Linked DNA regions of Homo sapiens: region 2 is linked to region 1. The links come from fine-mapping of genetic effects on gene expression. Tissue or cell type: spleen. Region 1 holds a variant in brackets; the other region holds the start of a gene. All regions are shown on one strand. Distances are between the middles of the regions.

Region 1 (8,258 bases):
CCTTACAGCAGGTTCAGAGATGGAAAAAAAAATGGGAGGAAGCCAGGAAGGAAACACACACAAAAGGCCAGCAGGTGGCTCAGGATGCTTGTGAAAGGTAGTATCCCAGCTGTGCAGGAAGCAGTGCAAGGAGGGTAATAGGTGTTCCCTTATTTCTATGAGAATATGCAAAGCATTTGCTCAAGGAGAGTTGGTTTTCTCAGTGTTGAAGCCAGCCATCTTTTCTTTTCTTTCTTTTTTTTTTTTTTTTTTTGAGACAAAGTCTCGCTGTGTCACCAGGCTGGAGTGTAGTGGCACAATCTTGGCTCACTGCAACCTCTGCCTCCCAGGTTCAAGCGATTCTCCTGCCAAAGCCAGGCATCTTTTCACGACTAAAAGCAAGTACCTGTCTTAACCAAGGCCTCAATATTGATGGGATTTGGTCTCTGACACATGCACAGGTGACCTGTGCACCTAGGGCTGCCTGGCAGCTCTAGGAAATGGCAATTCTGTCAGGTACTTGGCACAGAAAGTCACTGGCCTTCTTTGGAGGATGCATCATTTATGGAAACACTTCTTTATTGGATCCTGGGTCTCGGGTGGAAAACCAGGTCCCACATCAGGACTTTCTCTGTGAGGCTCCCAGGTTCTGGGGCTCCAGCTGCTGTCTGAGAGGAAGGTGTGGAGACAGAGAACATAGCCTAGAAGAGCCTGGAACTGAGACTTCCCCTTACCGAGGTTATGCAAATGAGGTTCTTGGACTACATATTCTGATTGGATGAGAAGAAAAACCTCTAGATCTACTCTGATTGGGCTTTATTTGCATGTTCTGATTGGATGAGAGCAAGTCTTAGGACAACCAATCAGAACATGATAACAAAGTCCAATCAGAGTAGGCCTAGAGGTTTTCCTCATCCAATCAGAACATGTAGCCCAGGAACTTCATTTGCATAAATTCTCATATATAAATGATGCCAAGTGGGGGGAGTTTTGTCATTCCAAGCTCTCCTGCGTCAGCTTGTGTAGCTGGTTAGTACTGGCTTAGAGGAAAAAGAAAACGAGTCACTTCCTGAGCACACTGGAGTCTGGAAGCTTAGAGGAAAAGGAGGAGGAGCAACTTCATTAGCACAGTGGAGGCTGGAGCCTGCCGTGGCTCACCTCGCTGCTGCCGTTGGTGCGGGCCAGGGAGACTAGAGCGCAGCCAGAATGGTAAAATGGTGGTGGGAAAAGTTCGCCATCCCAGGCCGTACTGCCTGTGGCGTGGCGTGGTGGGGTGGGTTGGAGGCCCTATCCAGGGCGTTACTGCCCGTGTTAGGAGGCTGGTTGGATGTGGTATCTGGGGCCTCACTGCCCACAGAGGGGAGTGGGTTGGGGGTGCTATCGGGTGTGCGCTGCCCGTGGCTGGGGGTGGGTTGGAGCACTATCCCAAGCTGTACTGCTAGCGGCAGTGGGGAGTTCTGGGGGCACTATCTGGGGATGCAGTGGCCGTGGCCGGCGGGCGAGTTGGAAGAACTATCGGGTGTTGCATTGCCCTTGTCAGGCACGGGTTGGGGGCGCTATCGGGTGCTACTCTGCCTGCGGTGGGCGGGACGTGTTATATCCAGGGCATCATTGCCTGCGTCTAGAAGCTGGCTGGGGGCATTATCCATAGCTGCACTGCCCACAGCAGGGAGCAGGTTGGCAGCACTATCTGGGGCTGCAGTGCTGTGGTGGGGGACGGGTTAGGCTCATTACAGGGTGCTACACTGTTGGCAGCAGGGAGGGGGGTGTTGAGGGCGCTTTCTGGGGCCTACACTGAGACAGAGATAGCAGGATTTATTGGGAGTGCTACTGGGGGCCAGACTGCCCGTGTAGAGGGGGTGGGAGGCTGGTTGGGGGCGCTATTGAGGGACGTATCCACTGCCCGTTTTGGGAGGGGGCGGGTTGGGTGCTATCAGAGGTCTGTACTGCGTGCCAGGGAGCTGGTGGGTGTGCTACCTGGGGCCACATTGGTTCCGGCGGGGCGGGTTGGGTGCGCTATCGGGGGCTACCTTGCCCGCGCAGGGGGTGGGTTGGGTGCGCTATCTGTGGCTGTACTGCCGGAGGCAGGGAGTGAGTTGGGGCGTCTCCCTGGGTTGCTGCTCCCAGTGGGGAGCAGGTTGGGGCACTATCCGGGGTTGCACTTCCCGCAGTTGGGGGGCGGTTTGGGTGCCATATCAGGGCATTACTGCCCCCAGCAGGGGTCTGGTTGGGGGCACTATTCGTGGCTACACTGTGTACGGCAGGGAGCGGATTGGGGGCGCTATCCCGGGCTGCACTGCCCGCGGCAGGGGGCGGGTTCTGGGCGCCATTGGGTGCTGCAGTGTCCGAAGCAAGGGCAGGTTGGGGTCGCCATTGGATGCTACACTGCCGGTGGTTGGGGGTGAGGTGTTGGAGGCGCTATCTGGGGGCTACACTGCCGGCGGCGGGTTAGGGGTGCTGTTGGGGGCTGCGCTGCCCCCCTGGTGCTGGTGGTGTCAGTGACGGGTGGTCAGAGGAGCGGTCCTCGTCTCCCCGGACTCCAGACTCTAGAGGGCCATCTCCTCCTGCTGGAGCGCGGCGGATGCACAGCGTTTCCGCGGGGATCCTGAGCACAATCCGTCACCTAGACCAGCCGTGGTTCCCAGGCCCGCGCCCTCTATGTGTTGCGGAAACTGCCTGGGACCCCCGGGCACGCAGTAGCTGACACTACGGGGTGATAGGGCCCCGTGGGTGGAGGCGTCAGGAACGGGAACCAGCACTAGGGTTGGGAGGGCTGGCTGGGGTTCAGTTTTTGCTGCTCCTGCTTCCCGAGGAACGCAGCCAGGGTGGGCCCAGCGGTTCTAGTAGAGTAGGAAGCCCGGGCACTGTGGTGTCTCCAGTCCCCACTCCAGGCCCTAGTTCCTGGCCAACTTGGGCCAAAAGGAGAGGCTGGACTTTGGAGGGTGGGCGTGAGTGCCTTCGCTGAAACCGGCCTCTGCCATCCAGTGGCCAGCATGCCAAGGTGAGGCTCTAACGCTACCACTCTCTGCATCCTGTTCTAGGCTTTCTTGGCTTTGCCTGCCCAGTTGTTTCATGCCAGGAGGAGGAGCCGCCTGCTGGAGGCTGGAGCTTGTGGCACCACCGCTCGCCTCGCTGTGGTTGGTGGCGGCCATGGAGACTAAAGACTCAGCGCTGGAGTGGTAGGAGGGCGGCAATGAAAACTGAAGAGCACCAGAGCGGTAGGATGGCGGCTGGCTGCCGCCAGGGCACAGGCAGTGCAGTGGTCAGGTGTTAGGAGCCTTGTAGGGTGGGCCTGTGCGTTGAGGGTGACAGCAGTAGTAGTTGTATTAGCATCGGTGCTAGTTGTGGCAGCAGCAGCAGCAAGTTTGGGGGCCGGGAAGGCAGGTCGGAGCGTTGGGGGGCAGCCCTGCCTGGCCTGGGGTGGGTAGGAAGCTGTGGGCCTCTGTGACAGCGGTGGAGGTGCAGCCAGGGGAAGGAGGAGTCTTCCCCGCATCTCCTGCAGAATCTGGAGGGCGCCCTCCTCCTGCTGGCACCTGAGTCAGGTGTGAGTGGCACCATTATGTTATTAACAGAAGTTTGGGGGGTAACTATTTGTGTATCATTTTGCTTGGTTTTTTGTCAGGGTAGTCTTGGACTTTTTTTTTTTTTAATTTCTGGGGTACATGAGCACAACGTGCATGTTTGTTACATATGTATCCATGTGCCATGTTGGTGTGCTGCACCCATTAACTCGTCATTTGCATTAGGTATATCTCCTAATGCTATCCCTCCCCCCTCCCCCCATCCCACAACAGGCCCTGGTATGTGATGTCCCCCTTCCTGTGTACAAGTGTTCTCATTGTTCAATTCCCACCTATGAGTGAGAACATAACGATGTTTGGTTTTTTGTCCTTGTGATAGTTTGCTGAGAATGATGGTTTCCAGCTTCATCCATGTCCTTACAAAGGCCATGAACTCATCATTTTTTATGGCTGTGTAGTATTCCATGGTGCATATGTGCCACATTTTCTTGGACTTTTTTAAATTTCATGAATCAGGAAGGGGACAAAATGTATAATAGGTCTCCTTGATTCTCTTACCTGTTCTTTTTCTTTTTTTCCAGCCTGGTTTTTCTTCTGCTTATCATCATTTTCTTGTTCCTGTTCATTTTCTTATGCTGCTGCTTCTATTTCTTGTGTCCTTTCTTGTTTCTCCTCCTCCTCCCTTTGTTTTCTTTATCACAAGCAATGGCCTTAACAAACAACAGTCCAAAACTGAGTTAAAAATAGACGACTTGTCATTGTATTCCACCCGCCCACCCCCCCCCCGCCCTCCCCCCACCGCCCCCACCCTCCCCCCACGCCCCCCACCCCCGCCCCGACGGAATCTTGCTCTGTTGCCCAGGCTGGAGTGCAGTGGTGATCTCTGCTCATTGCAACCTCTGTCTCCCAGGTTCAAGCAATTCTCCTGCCTCAGCCTCTTGAGTAGCTGGGATTACAAGCGAATACTGCTGTGCCCGGCTAATTTTTGTATTTTTAGTAGAGATGGGGTTTCGCCATGTTGGCCAGGCTGGTAT[T/C]GAACTCCTGACCTTGTGATCTTCCCATCTCAGCCTCTCAGAGTGCTTGGATTACAGGCGTGAGCCACCTCGCCGGCCCAGTGTGTTGTATTTTAAAAATGATCGGTCCGTTATTGTTTTAGAGATGAGGAAAAAATCAGTTGGATAATTATTTAGATTCTTGAGTAGCTGTGCTTTCATATCCTGTTAATTCGTTGTAAGTAGTTATTTGGGGAATCAAAAAATGAAGCGTCAAATAAAATATTGGTTGCAAACAGCCATTTTCTCTCTCTCCCATATTAGTCTGGAGATAGGCAAGAGGCATGGAGGTAATAAGTTCCAGTGTATGAGATCATTAAGAGAACCATATTCCCTTCATTTTATTTCTCTGCCACCATTTTCTGAGAGTATTGTCATCTGCATAAGCAAATTTGGTTCATCACATCGTTGCAACAGGAAAAGGAAGGGGAGGATCATGTGGAATTATAATGTTTTTAGGGCAAGATTCACAACCAAAAACAATGCTTCACTAACTTTTGCCTTTAAGAACCTGCAGTGTTGAGCCCTCTTTTATTCCTAATGTTACTACCTTTGTTATGAACTTTTTTTTTTTTTACTGATTTCTCTAGAAATTTATGCATTGTATTGACTGCTTTAAGGAAACAATATATATTGTATCATTTTTTTCAAGCCAACAAATATATAAGGTCTATAATTTTTACACTTTTAAAATTATTTTTAAGGTCATGAATATGTAAAATACTGTTGATATGTGTAAAAATATGCCTAAGTACCACTATATAGCTTATTTTGAAGACGTGTCTAAATTTTTGTCCAGAGTAGATCGGTTGCAGTTTCTTAGGTGTGTTTCTCAATACATAGCCTTAGTGTTTTAAAGCATATAGAAAAAATTTGAATACCGTTAACCTCATGTAGTCATTTGTTTACAGATTAATGTTTCTACAGACTAAAGGCATCACAGTCTCCTTTAAGATTGAGTAATATTAATACAATTTGAGATATATAGGGGTAGAAGCCAACAAATTCAGAGGAAAATTGTTAAATTATATAGCTGTAGATGAGGACATGAAACCCAGGTTCTAAGCTCTAAGGGGGCCATGAGCTACCATACCAAGTGCATCAGTGACTGGGCGTAGTGTTAGCAGACTTTTACAGGATGGTTGAGTGAGCTTTGGAGCCTAACTGTATGTGTACATGAATTTTTAAACTGCGTGGCACTTCCGCGTATCCATCTTTACAATGGGGGCAGTATTAAGTTTTTCTTCTCAGTTGACTGAATTATTTCGGTAGTCTTTGTCTTGCTGTCACTCTTGATGGCCACATGAGAGGAGCTAAGGTAATTTCTGGCAGCCTGGGAGTCCTTGGGAAAAACAGAAGGTGCCAGAGACCCCATTTTAGGAGGAGCCTCTGTTTTCCTCATGGACCCCCAAGAAGTGTAAGCAGACAGGTCCCTCTCAAAACCTGGGGAAGGCTCTGCTTTGTTTTGCCTTGCTTTAGCTGACCTTTTTGTTGAGGGCGGGCATCAGAAATTAGTTGGGGAAAGAGAGCTAAAGAAAGTTGCGGATAAGAAGGTGTATTTATGGTAAAGAAGGTTATGAAGGAAAGAGATTTTATGGGAGGGAGGATTTTGTATTACAAATTCTTGTCCTAAAGTAGAATGACTATTTAGAAAAAGAGAGAAATATAGGACAAGTCAGAAAGCCATAATATGGGAAAGAAAAACTTAGAACTGCTCAATCTTGTCTAGAAGTGCTGTATGTGTGATGTTTGTATAAAGGAGTTCTAATTAACTGGCTTTAAAGAGAATGAAAGCTCTCAAATACTTCTTAAGAAAAATAGAAGCTCTAATGCCTTTTAGTTCATGTGATTTCAGTAATCTTTGGGGAATAAAGGCTTTTAAAAGTTATTGGTAAAATGAAAATGTCTTCAAAATTTAGACATTTGGTGTAAATTAAGTCAGAGGTTAAATTTGCTAAGTGCTTTAATGTCATAGACCACTTCTTTGACTTTAGAAAATTGTTCAGATTATGTGGTTTGGAGCTGTTAGATTTCTATGTAAGGCCCTGGGACAGGTGGAGTTAGCCATGCCTCCTAGCTATGCTAGAAAGAGTTGACTTTATCTGCAGTTCTGTCTTGTATCCTAGACTCTGCACCTGGTACGTAATTAAAACTGCTTATACTAAAAAGAAATATTACCTGTTTTTGATTTTTTAAAAAAGGCGTGGGAAGGCCGGGCGCAGTGGCTCACGCCTGTAATCCCAGCACCTTGGGAGGCCAAGGTGGGTGGATCATGAGGTCAGGAGATCGAGACTATCCTGGCTAAAATGGTGAAACCCTGTCTCTACTAAAAACACAAAAAATTAGCCAGGCTGGTAACACACGCCTGTAATCCCAGCTACTCGGGAGGCTGAGGCAGGGAAATCACTTGAACCTGGGAGGCAGAGGTTGCAGTGAGCCGAATCGCACCACTGCAGTCCAGCCTGGCGACAGAGCAAGACTCTGTCTTAAAAAAACAACAACAACAAAGAGTTTTGTCTAAACTTAGAAATTTTAAGTATTATTTTTAGCTGAAAGAAAATAAAATTTAAGCAAGTTATGGGACATTTATGAAACTTAACTTTGTAAAGAATTGTGTGTCTGAGCGTGTTGACCAAAATGAAAAGGGTATTATTTAGTTCTTCCATAAATTAAATATTAAAACAGAAGGCACTGAAACAGAGCCAGAATCTGGGCCCATATGTCAAAATAATAGGGTTTTTTGGAACATTGATCAGTTCTTTAACAAGAAAAAATGTTATAAAGAGTTATAAATAGTTACGAAAATCTTACCTTATAGTCATTAATTAAAACTGGATAGATTCATAAAATTTTATTATTAAAAAGTAGCTTTAACATTAAAGATGTACTAACGTAAAAATAAAATTTGGTTTCATATTGAGTTCTTTCTTTTGAGAAATCCAAGAGCTCTCTCTGGGGTCTGGATCGGGACCCTTTTCTGGTAACACCACCACCCCCAGCTCTCCCCTCCTTCCTGGCCTCCACTGGGAGGCACTCCCCTGGAGGAGCAGCTGCTGCTGGCCCCCACCAGACTCAGCACAGAAGGCCAGGCCTGGGCTGCTGCTCTGCCCTCACCTACCCAGGAAATGAGATGGATACACACAGGAGAGTTGGCCTGGGTGGGGAGGGCATTCTGGAAGCCTGCCTTGGCTCTCTGGGTCTTTGGCCAGTAGCCACAGAAATGGAGACTCAGTTCCTTCAGCAATCTGTGTTTCTACTGCGTGTCTGGCACAGAGCGAAGTCCTGGGGTGGGGCCCTGGAGGTGTCCTGGAAAAAACGGGACACCTCCCTGTCCTCCAGGAGCTCACCCTAAGTCACAGAAGCCCATGTTTATGGAGGATTTACTATGCAGACTCTCTTCCTTAATTCTCACCACAACCCAGCCGTCAATGCTGTTATTATCCCCATGTGAAGTATCCAAAAAACAAGGTCCAGAGAGGGGAACAGATTTGTCGAAGCTGATCAGTGTTGGAGCTGAGAACTGGAATTCTGTTCTTTAAATTGAACCGTTTTTTAATAGGCATTGATTTTTTTTTTGTGGGTAATTTTATAGTTATGAGTTCATTTTCTTTTTTTAATTTTATTATTATTATACTTTAAGTTTTAGGGTACATGTGCACAACATGCAGGTTTGTTACATGTGTATACATGTACCATGTTGGTGTGC
Region 2 (8,000 bases), 97 kb after region 1:
CTACCATTCCACTCACGAATTCTATGTATTTGACCATTTGGGGTACCTCATATAAGTGGAATTACGCAATATTTGACCTCCTGTGACAGGTTATTTCACTGAGCATAATGTCCTCAAGGTTCATGCACATTGTTGCATATTGTAGAATATTCTGCCTTTCAAAGGCTGAATAATATTCCATGGATGCATATACCACATAGTCTTTATCCATGCATCCACTGATGGACATTAGGTTGTTTCTGTATCTTTTGTGAATAGTACTTATGAACATGGGTGTGCAGATATATCTTTTTGCGATGCCAATTTCAATTTTTTTGGATACATGCCCAGAAATGGAATTGCTAGATCACTTGCAATTTTTAACTTTTTGAAGAAGCTTCATACCGTTTTCCATAGGAGCTGCACCATTTTGCACCCTCAACAACAGTGTACAAGGGTTCCAATTTCTCCACATCCTTGATACTTGTCTTTTTTTTCTTTTTTTTATAATAGCTATCCTGACAGGTGTGAGGGGATATTTCATACTGGTTTTGATCTGCATTTTCCCGACGATTAGTGACGTTGAACAATTTTTCATATACCTCTTGGCTATTGGTTTGTGTTTTTTTGAGAAATGTCTAAGTCTTTAGCCCATTTTAATTGGCTTATTAGTTTTTTTGTTTTTGCCATTGAGTTGTGGGGGGTTATTTTATATTTTGGAATCAACCATACTTCCTCTATTCAACATAGCATTGGAAGTCCCAGCCAGAATAAGTGGGTAAGAAATAGAAATAATTAAAAGGCATTCTAATTGGAAAAGAAGTAAGATCATCTCTATTCACAGATGACATGAGATCAGGAGTTCAGGACCAGCCTGGCCAACATGACACAACCCCATCTCCACTAAAAATACAAAAATTAGCTGGAAATGGTGGTGCATGCCTGTAATCCCAGCAACTCGGGAGGCTGAGGCAGGAGAAGAATCACTTGAACCTGCGAGGTGGGGGCTGCAGTGAGTGGAGATTGTACCACCACCCTCCAGCCTGGGCAACAGAGCAAGACTCTGTCTCACAAATAAAATAAAGAATACATAAAGAAAACCTTAGCTGGGCGAGGTGGCTCACACCTGTAATCCCAGCACTTTGGGAGGCCAAGGCGGGAGAATTACCTGCGGTCAGGAGTTCAAGACCAGCCTGGTCAATATGGTGAAACCCCATCCATCTCTGCTAAAAATACAAAAAATAGCCGGGCATGGTGGTGTGTTTCTGTAATCCCAGCTACTCGGGAGGCTGAGGCAGGAGAATCGCTTGAACCCAGGAAATGGAGGTTGCAGTGAGCCAAGATTGTGCCATTGCACTCCAGCCTGGGCAACAAGAGTGAAACTCTGTCTCAAAAAAAAAAATTAAAAAAAAAAGAAAACCTTGCTGGGTTCAGTGGCTCATGCCTGTAATCCCAGCACTTTGAGAGGCTGAGACAAGGAATTACTTGAGCCCAGGTGTTCAAGACCAGCCTGGACAACATGGTAAGACCCCCACCTCTAAAAAAATGAAGTTAGCCAGGCATGGGTGGCATGTGCCTGTGGTCCCAGCTATGGTGGAGGCTGAGATGGGAGGATCACTTGAGCCCAGGAGGTTGAGGCTGCACTGAGCCATGCTTACCTCACTGCACTCCAGCCTGGGTGACAGAATGAGACCCTGTCTCTGAGAAATAAAAAGGAAATTCTACAATTCAACAGCAACAAAAATACAACATAAGGCTATTCTGGGTACACTGCCAATGAGGTAGTCCTGCTCCACAAGGAGCAGTGTAAAAAAGAATACAACATAATTTTTAAATGGATGAAGAAGTTGAATATATCTCTCTCCAAGAAGATGCACAAATGGCTATAAGCACATGAAAAAATCAACACTACTAGTGATTGTGTTAGAAGTGTAAATCAAAACTATATTGTGATACCCACTTGATACCTACTAGCCTGTCTATAATTAAAACATAAATGACAAGTATTGAAGAGGATATGGAGAAATTAACTCTCCTATGCACTGTGGAAAGAATGTAAAATAGTGCAGCTGCTGTGAACAACAGTTTGGCAGTTCTACAAAAAGTTAAACACAGAATTATCACATGCAATTCCACTTCTACATATAGACTCAAAAGAATTGAAAGTAGGGATTCAAACAGATCCTTGCACACCAGTGTTCTCAGCAGCATTATTTATAATAGCCAAGTATAGAAAGAACCTGAATGCCCATCAACAGTTGAATGGATAAACAAAATGTGGTATATATGAGTATTGGAATATTATTCAGCCTTAAAAAGGAAGGAAATTCTGATACATGCTACAATATGGATGAACCTTGAAAATGTCATACTAAGTGAAATAAACCAAAGAGGAAAATATTGTATGATTTCATTTGTATGAGGTACCTAGAATAGGCAAATTTATATAGTAAGAAAGAATAACAGAGGTTACCAGGGCCTGGAGAGAGGGAGGGATGGGGAGTTAGTTTTTAGTGGGTACATACTTCTGTTTGGAGATGATGAAAAAGTTCTGGAAATGGATAGTGGTAATGGCTGCATAACACTGTAAATGTACTTAATGCCAATGAATTGTACACTTAAAAGGGATTAAAATGGTAAATTTTATGCTATGTATGCTTTGCCACAATAAAAAATGAAGTATAAAAGAAGAATTTCTGGGCTTTCCGTTTTTTCATGTGTGTTTTTGGTTTTGTTTTTTTGTTGTTGTTTTTTTTGTTTGTTTTTGAGACAGGATCTTGCTCAGTTGCCCAGGCTAGAGTGCAGCGGCGTGATCATGGCTCACTATAGCTTTGACCTCCCAGTCACAGGTGATCCTCCCTCTTCAGCCTCCCAAGTAGCTGGGACCATACGTGTGCATCACCACACTCAGCTAATTTTTATAGAGACAAAGACTCCCTATGTTGCCCAAGCTGGTCTTGAACTCCTGGCCTCAAGTGATGCTCTCTCCTTGGCCTCCCAAAGTGCTGGGATTACAGGTGTCAGCCACCGCATAGGCTTTACTTCTAACTTCTTCTTGGCTGTAGTCCAGGAGTCTTGTTTCCTGAGTCCTCATGATCCCCATCACATGCTTCCAGGTTGATTCACTCTTTGTACAACCCTCTGACCCAGCGCTCTCCACAGCTCTGCCCTCAACTCACCACATATGGTGCTTGAAGAGCCACTTCCTTTCCTATACAGGCCACCAATGTCTTTTTGTGGCACATGAAACCCACTTCAGAGAAATGTGGGACTTTGGAATCCACGAAAGGCATAATTCACTTCACTGTCAAGGGATATAGCTCATTGGTCAGAAACTGTATCTGTTCTCTGAAGGACCATTGCATTCGGTCCCTCCTGGCTGGTTTCTGGTACCTTCTAGTCTGTCCTTCTCCCCTCCTTGTCTGTCTTCATTTCTCTCAAATCCCCCCTCCACCTGGGCAAATCTCTTTAAAGACCCTGTCTTTGCACTCAGAGAACGCCCCATGCTCCACCTCAAATTCTCCCCTCATTTCTGGCCCTGCATCCCTCATTCTCACACTCTACCTAGGCTAGCACTCACTGGTGGAGGGCTGGGGTGCCACAGCTTTGGAGAAGAGGTTTAAAGGTCTCCATATCCAGGAGCTGGCTCTGATATCTCGCCCCACCTGCCTGAGGCTGATCATTAACCCAGAACTTATATAAAGATGGCTCATGCGTGGAATGGGTATAGCACTGCCTGCAGCCATGGCCAGTACGGTTAGCCCCAGCACCATAGCTGAGACCCCAGAGCCACCTCCATTGTCTGACCACATCCGAAATGCTGCTGACATCTCAGTCATTGTCATCTATTTTCTGGTGGTGATGGCTGTTGGGCTGTGGGTAGGTGGAATCCCAGTGGCTTTTAGGGTGGGCACAAGGTTTAGGAGGGGGTATCTTAAGGGGGGAAGGGGTGTGGTTGTGACAAAGCTTTTCACAAATGTCATTGTGTTATCAGAATCATTTTCTTGTGTGTTGCATAAATAACGCTTACAATGAACTAATGTATTCTCCTAATAACCCCATCGTGTGCACACAGCCAGCACCGGGACCTTCAGATTTACTATGCATCCCCAACACCTGGCATAATGGACAAAGAGTGTATTTTTATTATCGCATTTCTTTCGCTTTCTTTTGTTGTTTGCTCACTTTCTGATTTAGTGAGTTGGACTCTTCATTTATGTTGAATTTTTTTATTTTAATAAATTTGAGACTGCAAATTTTTTTTTTTTTTGAGACGGAGTCTTGCTCTGTCGTCCAGGCTGGAGTGCAGTGGCGCTTGCTTGGCTCACTGCAAGCTCCGCCTCCTGGGTTCACGCCATTCTCCTGCCTCAGCCTCCCAAGTAGCTGGGACTACAGGCATGCGCCACCACGCCCGGCTAACTTTTTGTATTTTTAGTAGAGACGGGGTTTCACCATGTTGGCCAGGATGGTCTCGATCTCTTGACCTTGTGATCCACCCGCCTCGGCCCTCCAAAGTGCTGGAATTACAGGCGTGAGCCACCGTGCCCGGCCGAGACTGCAAATTTTATTGCAAGCATGGCTCAATGATACCTCACATGGTTTTCATAAGTGAGAATAATCAGAGCAGTTAAGATAGAAGTTAAGGATTATGATTTTTTTAAGTTCTTCCAGCCCTGGGTTTTTACAAAGCGACTGTTTTTGAAGTCCTTTAAAATTTGATGCTATAGAACACTTTCCAGCGAAATGTTTCTCTCTGTAGGAGTGCTGAAGTCACCCCTCTCAGCACCCTGGCCAGAGCCTCTGGGGTGTCTGGGTGCACTTGCTGGGGCTTGACCCTCACCTGTCTTCCCTTCTGCTCAGGCGATGCTGAAGACCAACCGAGGTACTATAGGAGGCTTCTTCCTCGCTGGTCGTGATATGGCCTGGTGGCCGGTAAGTGGATCGAAGTTTTCTGGAGATAAATTTCCTGTGTGTGTGCTTAAAACTGAATGTAGGCTGGGTGCGGTGTCTCACGCCTGTAATCCCAGCACTTTGGGAGGCCAAGGCTGGCAGATCATCTGAGGTCAGGAGTTCGAGACCAGCCTGACTAACATGGTGAAACCATCTCTACTAAAAATACAAAAATTAGCTGGACGTGGTGGTGTGTATGCCTGTAATCCCAGCTACTCAGGAGGCTGAGGCAGGATAATCACTTGAACCTGGGAGGCAGAGGTTGCAGTGAGCCTAGATCACACCACTGCACTCCAGCCTGGGCAACAAGAATGAAACTCCATCTCAAAAAAAAAAAAGTGAATGTAGACAACATTGGGAATGTTGATCATTTCTGATGTACATTGGTTGCCTACTCGCTGGGGCTCCTTTCCTAAATCCCCGACTTCATGGCTCCTCTCTGTAATTCCAGGACATTACAATATGTCACCTATTATGACAGCCGGTTCAGTCTGGCACTGAAGGACCCCAGCTCAGCCCCACCTTATATTCTTTTCTTCTGCTCCTTATCAAGAGTCTTCTCCTGGCTTCTTACAAGCTCTGCGCATTCCTGCTTTGTTGCCAGTCCTGAGCTGATGCTGGCCCTCTTGTTAGGATTGGCCTCCCCTTGTCTGCTGTCCTCTTTCAATGCCTCACCTCAGCCCTTTCTCATCTGAGGAGCCTCCCGGCTCTCTCCATGGGTCCCTATGTCCCATGCAGTTATTGGTTGTGTTCCCTGTGATGGTGCTAATGCTGATGCCTCTTGATTCTTGCCCAGTGGGTGTTCTTGTGGGGTTTTGATGTGTGACCCCCTCAGCCAGGGTCCCACTGCAGCAGAGGCTGTATCTTCCCCTCTGCACCTGGAGAGTGTCAGCCCAGCATCACATTATACAGTGGGTGCTTAGCAAATGCTTCCTTCACAGATCTGACTCATTTTCTAAATGGTATGAGGGGAAGTGGAGATGGGCAACTGTCCTGGCTGGGGTGACTGAAGCAGAACAACTGGAAGTTTGAAATGAATTTTATTTGGGACATCCAATCAGACATTGCATTTTTAGGACTGTTTAGTGAAACATGCAAGGAGGCTCAAGCGATCTTGAAGCCAAAAACCAGCTCAATCCCATCCTCTGGCCCCATGTAGCTGAGCAGAAAAAGTGATTTTACAGAGGCCTTAAAAAGTGGGAAGAGCCACACCCCAATTCTCTTCTGCTAGGACTGGTGCTCATCTACGTCCACTCAAGAGACCTCTCTTGGTCTCTGGGTCTTTAGAACAGCAGACACTGTAATGGCGAGGGGATGAATGAAAAGAGTGTCCTGTGGCTGGGAGGATGGAGAGAAACTCCCTCCTAGCCAGCTTGGGGTCTTTGCATATGATTAAAGGGAGAAGAGCTGATGGGAGATCTGGCAGTGCTTGGCCAAGGACAGGCTCAACTCAGAGCATTTTAGTAGATTGACCAATGCTCCCCCAAGACAGGGGCCAACGAGCTTTTCTGTAAAAGGCCAGATTGTAAATACTTTAGAGTTTTCTAGACATATAGTCTATTGCAGCCACAGAACCCCGCTGTTGTAGGACAAAAAGCAGCCCAAGTCCATATGGAAAACCAATGAGCACGGCTGTGTTCCAGACAATGAAATTTGAATCATACAATTTCACAAGTTTACAATTTCACATTTCACAAAATATTATGCTTACTTAGATTGTTTACCATTATTTAACAATGCAAAAATGTAAAAAAACATTCTTGGCTCGTGGGCCATTCAGAAACTGACTGTGGGCTGGATTAGCCCAGGGGCCATTGTTTGCTTGACTCCTGCTCTGAGGAGTAGTGACTGAAACATCTCAGCATCTGTCTATTTTCTTTTTTTTTTTTTTTTTGAGACAGAGTCTTGCTCTGTCACCCAGGCTGGAGTGCAGTGGCGCGATCTCCGCTCACTGCAGGCTCCACCCCCTGGGTTCATGCCATTCTCCTGCCTCAGCCTCCAGAGCAGCAGGGACTACAGGCGCCCACCACCACGCCCGGCTGATTTTTTTGTATTTTGAGTAAAGATGGGGTCTCACCGTGTTAGCCAGGATGGTCTTGATCTCCTGACCTTGTGATCCACCCGCCTCAGCCTCCCAAAGTGCTGGGATTACAGGCGTGAGCCACCACGCCCAGCTACATCTGTCTATTTTCAAGAAGTCTGATTTGGATCTTTTAACTCCAACCCTAGTCTGTTCTCTTGCATTCCAGATGGGCGCCTCTCTCTTTGCCAGTAACATCGGCAGCAACCACTATGTGGGGCTGGCTGGGACAGGAGCAGCTTCAGGAGTCGCCACCGTAACATTTGAATGGACTGTAAGTGACATCATAGGCTTTTTCCTTCAAATCAAAACCATATCCAGTGTCTTAGTATGTTTTATGCTGCTATGACAGAATATCACAGGCTGGATAATTTATAAAGAACAGAAATGTATCTCTGACAGCTCTGAAGGCTGGGAAGTGCAAGGGCTGAGGGACCCACATCTGGCAAGGGCTTCTTGCTTCATCGTCCCATGGTGGAAGGTGGAAGGTGGAAGGGCAATAGGGCACGAGAGAGAGAGAGAGAGAGAGAGAGGGATGGAGGATGAGAGAGAGAGAGAAAGAGACAGAGACAGAGACAGAAGAGAAAAGGGGAGGAGAGGGTGAAACTCATTTTTTAAAATCAGGAACCCACTCCTACTATAACTAACCCATTATCTCAATAATGGGATCCATCTGTTTATGAGGGAAGAGCCCTCATAACCTAATCACCCCTTAATGGTCTAACCTCTCAATACTGTTGCATTGGGGATTAAGTTTCCAACACATGAACTTGGTGGTACACGTTGAAACCATAGCATCCAGGTATATTAATGGAAGTCATATCCCAGGTTTTTCTGGGTGTCTGTATAGAATGTTCTCCTCTTTGGTTTTTTTTTTTTTTTTTTTTTTTTTTTGCTTATTTGTTTGTTGTTGTCTTCTTTGTCAATTTTAAGTTCTGGGATACATGTGCAGAACCTGCAGGTTTGTTACATAGGTATACATGTGTCATGG

What was found. PIP is the estimated chance that this variant, and not a neighbour inherited with it, causes the effect.
Region 2: SLC5A4 starts here. The variant in region 1 is fine-mapped to the expression of SLC5A4 in spleen (GTEx, PIP above 0.99).

The regions. Positions count from the first base shown.
Region 1 is chr22:32,347,777-32,356,034 of GRCh38, reverse strand. It overlaps a transcript of SLC5A4 not described here and a transcript of RFPL3 not described here. Among named protein-coding and RNA genes, the nearest start is that of RFPL3, 6.0 kb to the left of the region's middle. The variant T/C (reference allele first, on the strand shown) is at 4,535.
Region 2 is chr22:32,251,053-32,259,052 of GRCh38, reverse strand. It overlaps SLC5A4 (solute carrier family 5 member 4), which reads left to right and starts at 3,706. Exons shown (of 15, transcript NM_014227.3): 1 at 3,706-3,858; 2 at 4,840-4,911; 3 at 7,179-7,283. The coding sequence starts at 3,724. All of the region lies in intron 2 of SLC5A4-AS1 (SLC5A4 antisense RNA 1), which reads right to left.